Regions from separate parts of the Homo sapiens genome. Here regions 2 and 3 are each linked to region 1. A link means that fine-mapping ties the variant in region 1 to the expression of a gene that starts in the linked region. Tissue or cell type: whole blood. Region 1 holds a variant in brackets; each other region holds the start of a gene. All regions are shown on one strand. Distances are between the middles of the regions.

The links. PIP is the estimated chance that this variant, and not a neighbour inherited with it, causes the effect.
Region 2: PLOD1 starts here. The variant in region 1 is fine-mapped to the expression of PLOD1 in whole blood (INTERVAL, PIP above 0.99). The same link has a PIP of 0.9 or more in neutrophils.
Region 3: it holds the start of KIAA2013, and the variant in region 1 is fine-mapped to the expression of KIAA2013 in whole blood (INTERVAL, PIP above 0.99).

Annotation. Positions count from the first base shown.
Region 1 is chr1:11,987,361-11,990,040 of GRCh38, reverse strand. MFN2 (mitofusin 2) reads right to left here. Exons shown (of 19, transcript NM_014874.4): 3 at 698-876. The coding sequence starts at 872. Among named protein-coding and RNA genes, the nearest start is that of MFN2, 8.3 kb to the right of the region's middle. The variant G/A (reference allele first, on the strand shown) is at 1,503.
Region 2 is chr1:11,933,650-11,936,329 of GRCh38, reverse strand. It overlaps PLOD1 (procollagen-lysine,2-oxoglutarate 5-dioxygenase 1), which reads right to left and starts at 1,613. Exons shown (of 19, transcript NM_000302.4): 1 at 1,475-1,613. The coding sequence starts at 1,550. RefSeq lists a silencer at 1,335-1,804 and enhancers at 981-1,904, 2,025-2,074, 1,905-2,680.
Region 3 is chr1:11,924,980-11,927,659 of GRCh38, reverse strand. KIAA2013 reads left to right here and starts at 1,233. Exons shown (of 3, transcript NM_138346.3): 1 at 1,233-2,455. The coding sequence starts at 1,423. RefSeq lists enhancers at 1,014-1,308, 963-1,626, 1,627-2,289 and a silencer at 1,309-1,378.

The DNA of each region.
Region 1 (2,680 bases):
CCAAGGGCAGATAAGACTCAGTTACTGGGTCTCCACAGACAATCTCAGGACCTGGCGCCAAAGTGTCCTTCTAAAGAGGGAGCCTGAGGAAGCCAGTGCTGGAGTTGACACTCAGACGAGCGGGGCCCTGGGAACCAGTCCTTCTCTGCTGATAGACAAGGAACTAGAGGTTGGGCTCAAATTAGTAACTAGTAGAAAAGGCATAGGTGACGTGAGTTTCCTATAGTTCTGTCACCAATCTAAAAATATCAAAGAAAGGGCGCCCTGGTCAGGGATCACTGACACCCAAACAGTGCCTGGTATTAATGGCAGCCAGAACTAGGCAAAGGAAAACACGTGGGCTCCGGAGTTGGAGACACCTGGGTAAAACCCTGATCTATTACTTACAAGGTATCGGACAACTCTCAAACCTCAATTTGCTTGCCTTGTAGATGGGGATAAGATTCACCTATCTTTCATGATTAAATGAAACAAAACATGTGGACTTCTTAAAGTAATTACTAAATGGCAGTTCCCTTGTCTTCCTGGCCTCATCTCCCCAGACTCCAATTCCACATGATTTCAAGAGCAGAGCATTTCTAAGGCTATCTGGTTATGACTTCCCTGGGAGCAGAGATATACCTCCCCACCCGCAAATCCCACTAGCTAAATATCTAAACAGGTAAGAGCGGGCCTGGCTGAGCCGGTGCCCCCTTACCTTCAAGGAAGGTGGCGCTCTCCTGGATGTAGGCCCCCAGCTGCTCAAAAATGCCATTGATCTTCTTCTTGGCAGTGACAAAGTGCTTAAGTGGGGATGCATTCACCTCAGCCATGTGTCTCTTATTTTTCTTGACTGTGACGATAGAGTTGCATCGAGAGAAGAGCAGGGACATTGCGCTGCAAGAGAAGCTAACGTGAGCGAACCCAGCAACACCTACCTCGGGACATCCTGCTAGGGAGATGGCGGAATGCTTTGGGGAGAATCAAGAATATGGGGATCTCAGGTCACTGCAACCTCCAGGACTAGAACAAAGGACGGTGAGATAAGAACAGTGTCTCAGGCTGGGCGCGGTGGCTCACCCCTGTAATCTCAGAACTTTGGGAGGTTGAGGCAGGTGGATCACCTGAGGTCAGGAGTTCAAGACCAGCCTGGCCAACATGGTGAAACCCCCGTCTCTACTAAAAATACAGTAATTAGCCAGACCCAATGGCACACACCTGTAATCCCAGCTACTTGGGAGGCTGAGACAGGAGAATCACTTGAACCTGGGAGATGGAGGCTGCAATGAACCAAGATCATGCCATTGTACTCCAGCCTGGGTGACAGGGCGAGATTTTGTCTCAAAAAATAAAACAAAATTAGCATGACACAGTGGCATGCATCTGCAGTCCTAGCTACTTGGGAGTCTGAGGTGGGAGGGTCACTTGAGCCCAGGAGTTTCGGCTGCAGTGACCTATGATCAGTCCACTGCACTCTAGCCTGGGAGACAGAGCAAGACCACATAAAAACACTATTGGTTAGG[G/A]GCCAGGTTCAGTGGCTCATACCTATAATCCCAGCACTTTGAGAGGCCAAGGCAGGCAGATCACTTGAACTTTGGAGTTCGAGACAAGCCTAGGCAATGTAGGACCCCGTCTCTATTTAAAAAAAAAAAAAAAAACAGCCAGGCATGGTGGGTTATGCCTGTAATCCCAGCACTCTGGGAGGCTGAGGCAAGTGGATCACAAGGTCAGGAGTTCAAGACCAGCCTGGCCAACATGATGAAACCCCGTCTCTACTAAAAATACAAAAAAATATAGCCGGGTGTGGTGGTGGCCGCCTATAATCCCAGCTACTTGGGAGGCTGAGGCAGAGAATTGCTTGAACCTGGGAGGCGGAGGTTGCAGTGAGCCGAGATCGCACCACTGTACTCCAGCCTGGGTGACAGAGCCAGACCAAGTCTCAACAAAGAAAAACACACACACACACACACACACACAAAAACTATTGGTCTATTTTAGTATAGCACAGGTGTGCTACAGAAAATTTGGAAACTGAAGGGGAAAAAAACCCATAACCCCATCATTTTGTGATAAGCAATGTTAACATTTTATTTACTTATTTATTTTTTATTTTGAGACAAGATCTCGCTGTTACCTGGGCTGGAGTGCAGTGGCGCAATCACAGCTCACTGCAGCCTCAACCTCTTGGGTCCAAGCAATCCTCCCACCTCAGCCTCCTGAGTACATGAGACCACAGGCATGCACCACCACGCCCCACTAATTTTTTTAAAATTTTTTGTAGAGACAGGGTCTTCTTATGTTGCCCAGGCTGCTCCCAAACTCTTGGGCTCCAATGATCCTCTCACTTTGGATTCCCAAAGTGTTGGGATTAAAGTGCTGGGATTAAAGGCGTGAGCCACCATGCCCAGCCAACATTTTTTTTTTTTTTTTCTGAGACAGAGTCTTGCTCTATCGCTCAGGCTGGAGTGCTGTGGCATGATCTCGGCTCACTGCAACCACCACCTCCCGAGTTCAAGCTATTCTCCTGCCTCAGCCTCCCAAGCAACTGGGACTACAGGCACTCGCCACCATGCCCGGCTAATTTTTGTATTTTCAGTAGAGGTGGGGTTTCACCATGTTGGCCAGGTAGGTCTTGAACTCCTGACCTCAAATGATCCACCCACCTTGTCCTCCGAAAGTGCTGGGATTACAGGCATGAGCC
Region 2 (2,680 bases), 54 kb after region 1:
TGCCAGGGAGGGCTGGGGAGGAGGGAAGCACCCACTCAGGACAGTGGGGCACACACTGCAATCCAATCTGCCTTGAGGAAGTAGAAAGAGCGCTAGACTGGAGCCCAGCTGACCTCGGACCAACCACCTCTGTCTGGACCACCCTGGACAGTCACTTCACCTGTCTGGGCCTCAGTTTCCTCAAGTATAAACTGCAGAGAGGGCCAGGTGTGGTGGCTCACGCCTGTAATCCCAACACTTTGGGAGACCAAGGTGGGCTGATCACCTGAGGTCAAGAGTTCAAGACCAGCCTGGCCAACATGGTGAAACCCCATCTCCACCAAAAATACAAAAATTAGCTGGGCATGGTGGCACATGTCTGTGATCCCACCTACCTGGGAGGCTGAGGTACAGGAGTCGCTTGAACCGGCCGGGCGCGATGGCTCACGCCTGTAATCCAAACATTTTGGGAGGCTGAGGCCAGCGGATCAAGAGGTCAGAAGTTCAAGACCAGCCTGGCCAGCATGGTGAAACCCCATCTCAACTAAAAATACAAAAATTAGCTAGGCATGGTGGCACGTGCCTGTAATCCCAGCTACTTGGGAGGCCGAGGCAGGAGAAACACTTGAACCTGGGAGGTGGAGGTTGCAGTGAGCTGAGATTGTGCCACTGCATTCCAGCCTGGGCGACAGAGCGAGACTCCATCTCAAAAAAAAAAAAAAGAATTGCTTTTACCTGGGAGGCAGAGGTTGCAGTAAGCCGAGATCGCATACTGCGTTCCAGCCTGGGCGACAGAGCAAGACTCTGTCTCAAAAATAAATAAATAACTAAATAAATAATACATTAAGTAAAATAAAAAAAATAAACTGCAGAGAGGAAGACCACCCTGGCAGGGGCTAAGCAGACCACAGGGGACATGGATGAAAGCACAAACTTATCCACAAAGTGAGCCACACCTTCTACCCCCATTCCTCCCCTGTCCCCCTCAAGACCCCTCATTCCCATGGTCATGAGGCCTCCTGGCTCTGGAACCAGACACCTGGGTGGGTGGGGTAAATCCTGGTTCCAAGGCCCACAAGTTGTATGATCTTGGGCAAGTGAATGAACTCTGGAGCCTCAGTTTGCCCAGCTGGAAAACGGGGATAATAGAAGGAAACACTTACCAGGGTAGCAATCATGCCTAACTGATGCCTGGCCCATAGTGAGCACTGGGCAGAATAGCCATTGTCGGTTATTATTATGAAAACTATTATTATTTGAGCCTTTCTGTGCTGAATGGGACTCAGCTGTCACCCTTTCCTTCCCGAAGCAGGAACCGCAGCCCCAAGAGGGGAAGTGATTTGTTCAAGTCACCAGCGATTAAGTGGACAAGGAGCCGGAACCCAGACTCCCTCTCCAGCCCAGGCCTCCCATTCAGGTCGTTCCCAGGGAGGCAGCCCGACACCAGCCCTCCCGCCCGGATCCGCGCTCCCGCCCCCGGCCTTCGCTCCCTCACCCTCCGGCTTGGCGTCGCCCTTCGCTTCGGCCAGCAGCAGCCAGCCCAGCAGGGCCAGTAGCAGCAGGGGCCGCATGGCCGAGGTATGGGGGACGATCGGCCGACCCGGCGGCGCTCGCAGGGCTGGAAACTTCGCGACGGGGCCGCAGGTCCCGCTGCCACGCACTGGGCCCGCCCCGGGGGCGGCACCACCCCGCCCCTCCACGCCCTCCCCCGCGCCTGCCTAGTGGGGAAGGGTTTTTCTGCAGATATGCCCAAGTCCGGGCCTCTCCTTATTAGGGCAGCTCCCTCCGCCTCTCTGTGCAGCTCCCGGGGCTTCCGTCAGGCCCTGCCGTCTCCCTCCCTTCTCTGGGGGGTTCACTCCGACCAGAAAGAGGGCGGTGAGAGGAGAGAGAGGCCACGATTTCTAGACCCCAGGTTCTGGGCCAAGGCTCCATGGCATCGATAGCCACGAGCCCCTGTTTGCTCGCCTGAAAAGTGGGGCTTATGATAGCGTCTGTTCATTGGGTCTTGCACGGGTTAATGGCGTTACCTGTAGCGCACTTAGAGCAGCCCCAGGTCAAGCCCCAAGGAAGTCAGTTTTCATGATTTCATTAGTCCTTCCCAAAACCCAAGGGGTGAGGGTGGGCACGGATGCGTTCAGAGACACGGACACCCCTACGTGGCCCACCCAGGCACTGGAAATGCAGGAAGCCCGTCTCCACTCTCCCCAAAAGGCAATCACTTGATCTCCCTTTGTGTCCCTGGGAGGCAAACCTCTGAGCCAAGGAAAGTCTTGCTTCTGAGGTTTTTTTGTTTTTTGTTTTTTTTTTTTCATTTTTTTGAGACAAGGTTGCTTTCAGTTGCCCAGGCTGGAGTGCAGTGGCGTGATCACCGCTTGCTGCAGCCTCGACCTCCCGGGCTCAAGCGATCCTCCCATCTCAGCCTCCCAAGTAGGTGGGATCACAGGCCTGAGCCACCATCCCTGGCTAATTTTTCTACCTTTTTTTTGAGACAGAGTTTCACTCTTGTTGCCCAGGCTGGAGTGCAACGGCGAGATCTGGGGTCACGGCAACCTCCGCCTCCCGGGTTCAAGCAATTCTCCTGCCTCAGCCTCCCGAGTAGCTGGGATTACAGGCATGTGCCACCATGCCCAGCTAATTTTGTATTTTTAGTAGAGGTGGGGTTTCTCCATGTTGGTCAGGCTGGTCTTGAACTCCCACCCTC
Region 3 (2,680 bases), 62 kb after region 1:
TTATTTATTTATTTTTTTTTTTTTGAGACAGAGTCTCCCTCTGTCACCCAGGCTGGAGTGCAGTGGCGCGATCTTGGCTCACTGCAAGCACCGCCTCCCGGGTTCACGCCATTCTCCTGCCTCAGCCTCCCGAGTAGCTGGGACTACAGGCGCCTGCCACCACGCCTGGCTAATTTTTTATATTTTTAGTAGAGACAGGGTTTCACCGTGTTAGCCAGGATGGTCTCGATCTCCTGATCTCGTGATCTGGCGGCCTCGGCCTCCCAAAATGCTGGGATTACAGGCGTGAGCCACCGTGCCCAGCCTAATTTTTGTATTTTTAGTAGAGACAGGTTTTCACCATGTTGGTCAGGCTGGTTTCGAACTCCTGACCTCAAGTGATTTGCCCATCTCAGCCTCCTAAAGTGCTGGAATTACAGACGTGAGCCACCACTCCTGGCCTCTGGTGGTTCCCCTTCCCCTCCTCCTCCCTTTTCCTTTCTTCTTCTTTCTTCCTCTTCTTCTCTCTCCTTTTTTTTTCCTCCACTTTTTCGTATTGTTCCAAGTGTTTTTTTGCAGTGAGGATAGTCTTTTTTTTTTTTTTTTTTTTTGAGACAGAGTCTCACTCTGTCGCCCAGGCTGGAGTGCAGTGGCGTGATCTCGGCTCACTGCAAGCCTGCAACCTCCGCCTCACGGGTTCAAGCAGTTCTCCTACCTCAGCCTCCTGAGGAGCAGGGATTACAGGCATGCGCCACCACGCCCGGCTAGTTTTTGTATTTTTAGTAGAGATGGGGTTTCACCATGTTGGTCAGGCTGGTCTCAAACTGCTGACCTCGTGATCCGCCCGCCTTGGCCTCCCAAAGTGCTGGGATTACAGGCGTGAGCCACCGCGCGCGGCGAGAGGATGGTCATTTTTACAGAAACAAAGTTGTTGTGTGTGTGTGTGTGTATGTTTTTAAATTTTGGGGCTGTTGAATCCATCAGTAGCAAAGGGGCCCAACACGTGTTCGGTTTGGCTGGCTCGATGTTTTTTTCACGAGTGAATTGGATGCTTCCAGTCCTCCCCAGACCCCTGCACTTAACTCCACTGGACTTCACTCTTCCGGCCTGGGAACGAGTGGTCCCGCCCCCGGCAGCTTTTGTCCCGCCCTCGCCGTGGCTCCGCCCCCTTCTCTCCGGCCTGCTCTCTCTCCTCCCTCCGCCCTCCCGTTTTCCATCTGTCGTAAAAGACACGGCGACGCTTGACCGCCGGCGTCGTTTGACGGCTGGAGGCCACCGAGAAGAAGGAGGAAGCAGGGGTGGCGGCTGCTGCGGCGGTTGCGGCGGGGGCCGGGGTGGGCGCCGCGGTCCGGGCCGGGCAGTGAGGCGCGGGCGGCCGGGCCGGTGGGCTGGGCGGCGGGCCCGGCGGCCGCCCTCGCACCCTTGCCCGCGCCTGGCGGCCCGATGTGGCTGCAGCAGCGGCTCAAGGGGCTGCCGGGACTGCTGTCGAGCAGCTGGGCCCGCCGCCTCCTCTGCCTGCTTGGCCTCCTGCTGCTGCTTCTGTGGTTTGGGGGGTCCGGCGCGCGGCGGGCGGCGGGCGGCCTGCACCTGCTGCCCTGGTCCCGCGGTGAGCCGGGCGCCGCCGAGCCGTCTGCCTGCCTGGAGGCGGCCACCCGCGCCTGGCGCGGCCTGCGGGAGCGCGGTGAGGTGGTACCGCTGGGTCCTGGAGTGCCGGCCCTGGTGGCCAACGGCTTCCTGGCCCTGGACGTGGCTGCCAATCGGCTGTGGGTGACTCCCGGGGAGCGGGAGCCCGCCGTGGCGCCGGACTTTGTGCCCTTCGTGCAGCTGCGCCCGCTGAGCGCGCTGGCTGAAGCTGGAGAGGCGGTGCTGCTGCTGCGGGAGGGGCTTCTGCGCCGCGTGCGTTGCCTGCAGCTGGGGTCCCCAGGTCCTGGCCCCGTGGCCGCCGGCCCCGGGCCCGCCTCCGTCTCTGGCCTTGCCGCGGGGTCCGGCCGCGACTGCGTGCTGCTGCAAGAGGACTTTCTGGCGCACAGGGGCCGACCCCACGTCTACCTGCAGCGCATCCAGCTCAACAACCCCACGGAGCGCGTGGCCGCGCTGCAGACTGTGGGGCCCACTGCCGGCCCAGCCCCCAAGGCCTTCACCAGTACCCTGGAGAAGGTCGGAGACCATCAGTTCCTCCTCTACTCAGGCCGGTCCCCGCCTACGCCCACTGGGTTGGTGCACCTGGTGGTGGTGGCCGCCAAGAAGCTGGTGAACCGCCTCCAAGTGGCTCCCAAGACGCAGCTGGATGAGACGGTGCTGTGGGTGGTGCACGTCTCTGGCCCCATTAACCCCCAGGTGCTCAAAAGCAAAGCAGCCAAGGAGCTCAAGGCGCTGCAGGACTTGGCACGGAAGGAAATGCTGGAGCTCTTGGACATGCCAGCGGCGGAGCTGCTTCAAGACCACCAGCTCCTCTGGGCTCAGCTCTTCAGCCCAGGTGAGTCCTGGCCAGCGCTTGGTCCACCCTAGATATGTCCCTCCCAAGTCTGCAGAGGTGACACTGAAGGTGATGGTGGGGTGGTTGAAACTTGGGCTTGGCGTTTCACCAGTGGTTGAATCTGCTCAACTGCTTAGTGTCTGTGCGACCTTTGGATTCGTCGCCTAATCTCTCTGGGCCTGTATTTAATAACAATAACGCCTACCTCAGAAGGTTTTTATGAGA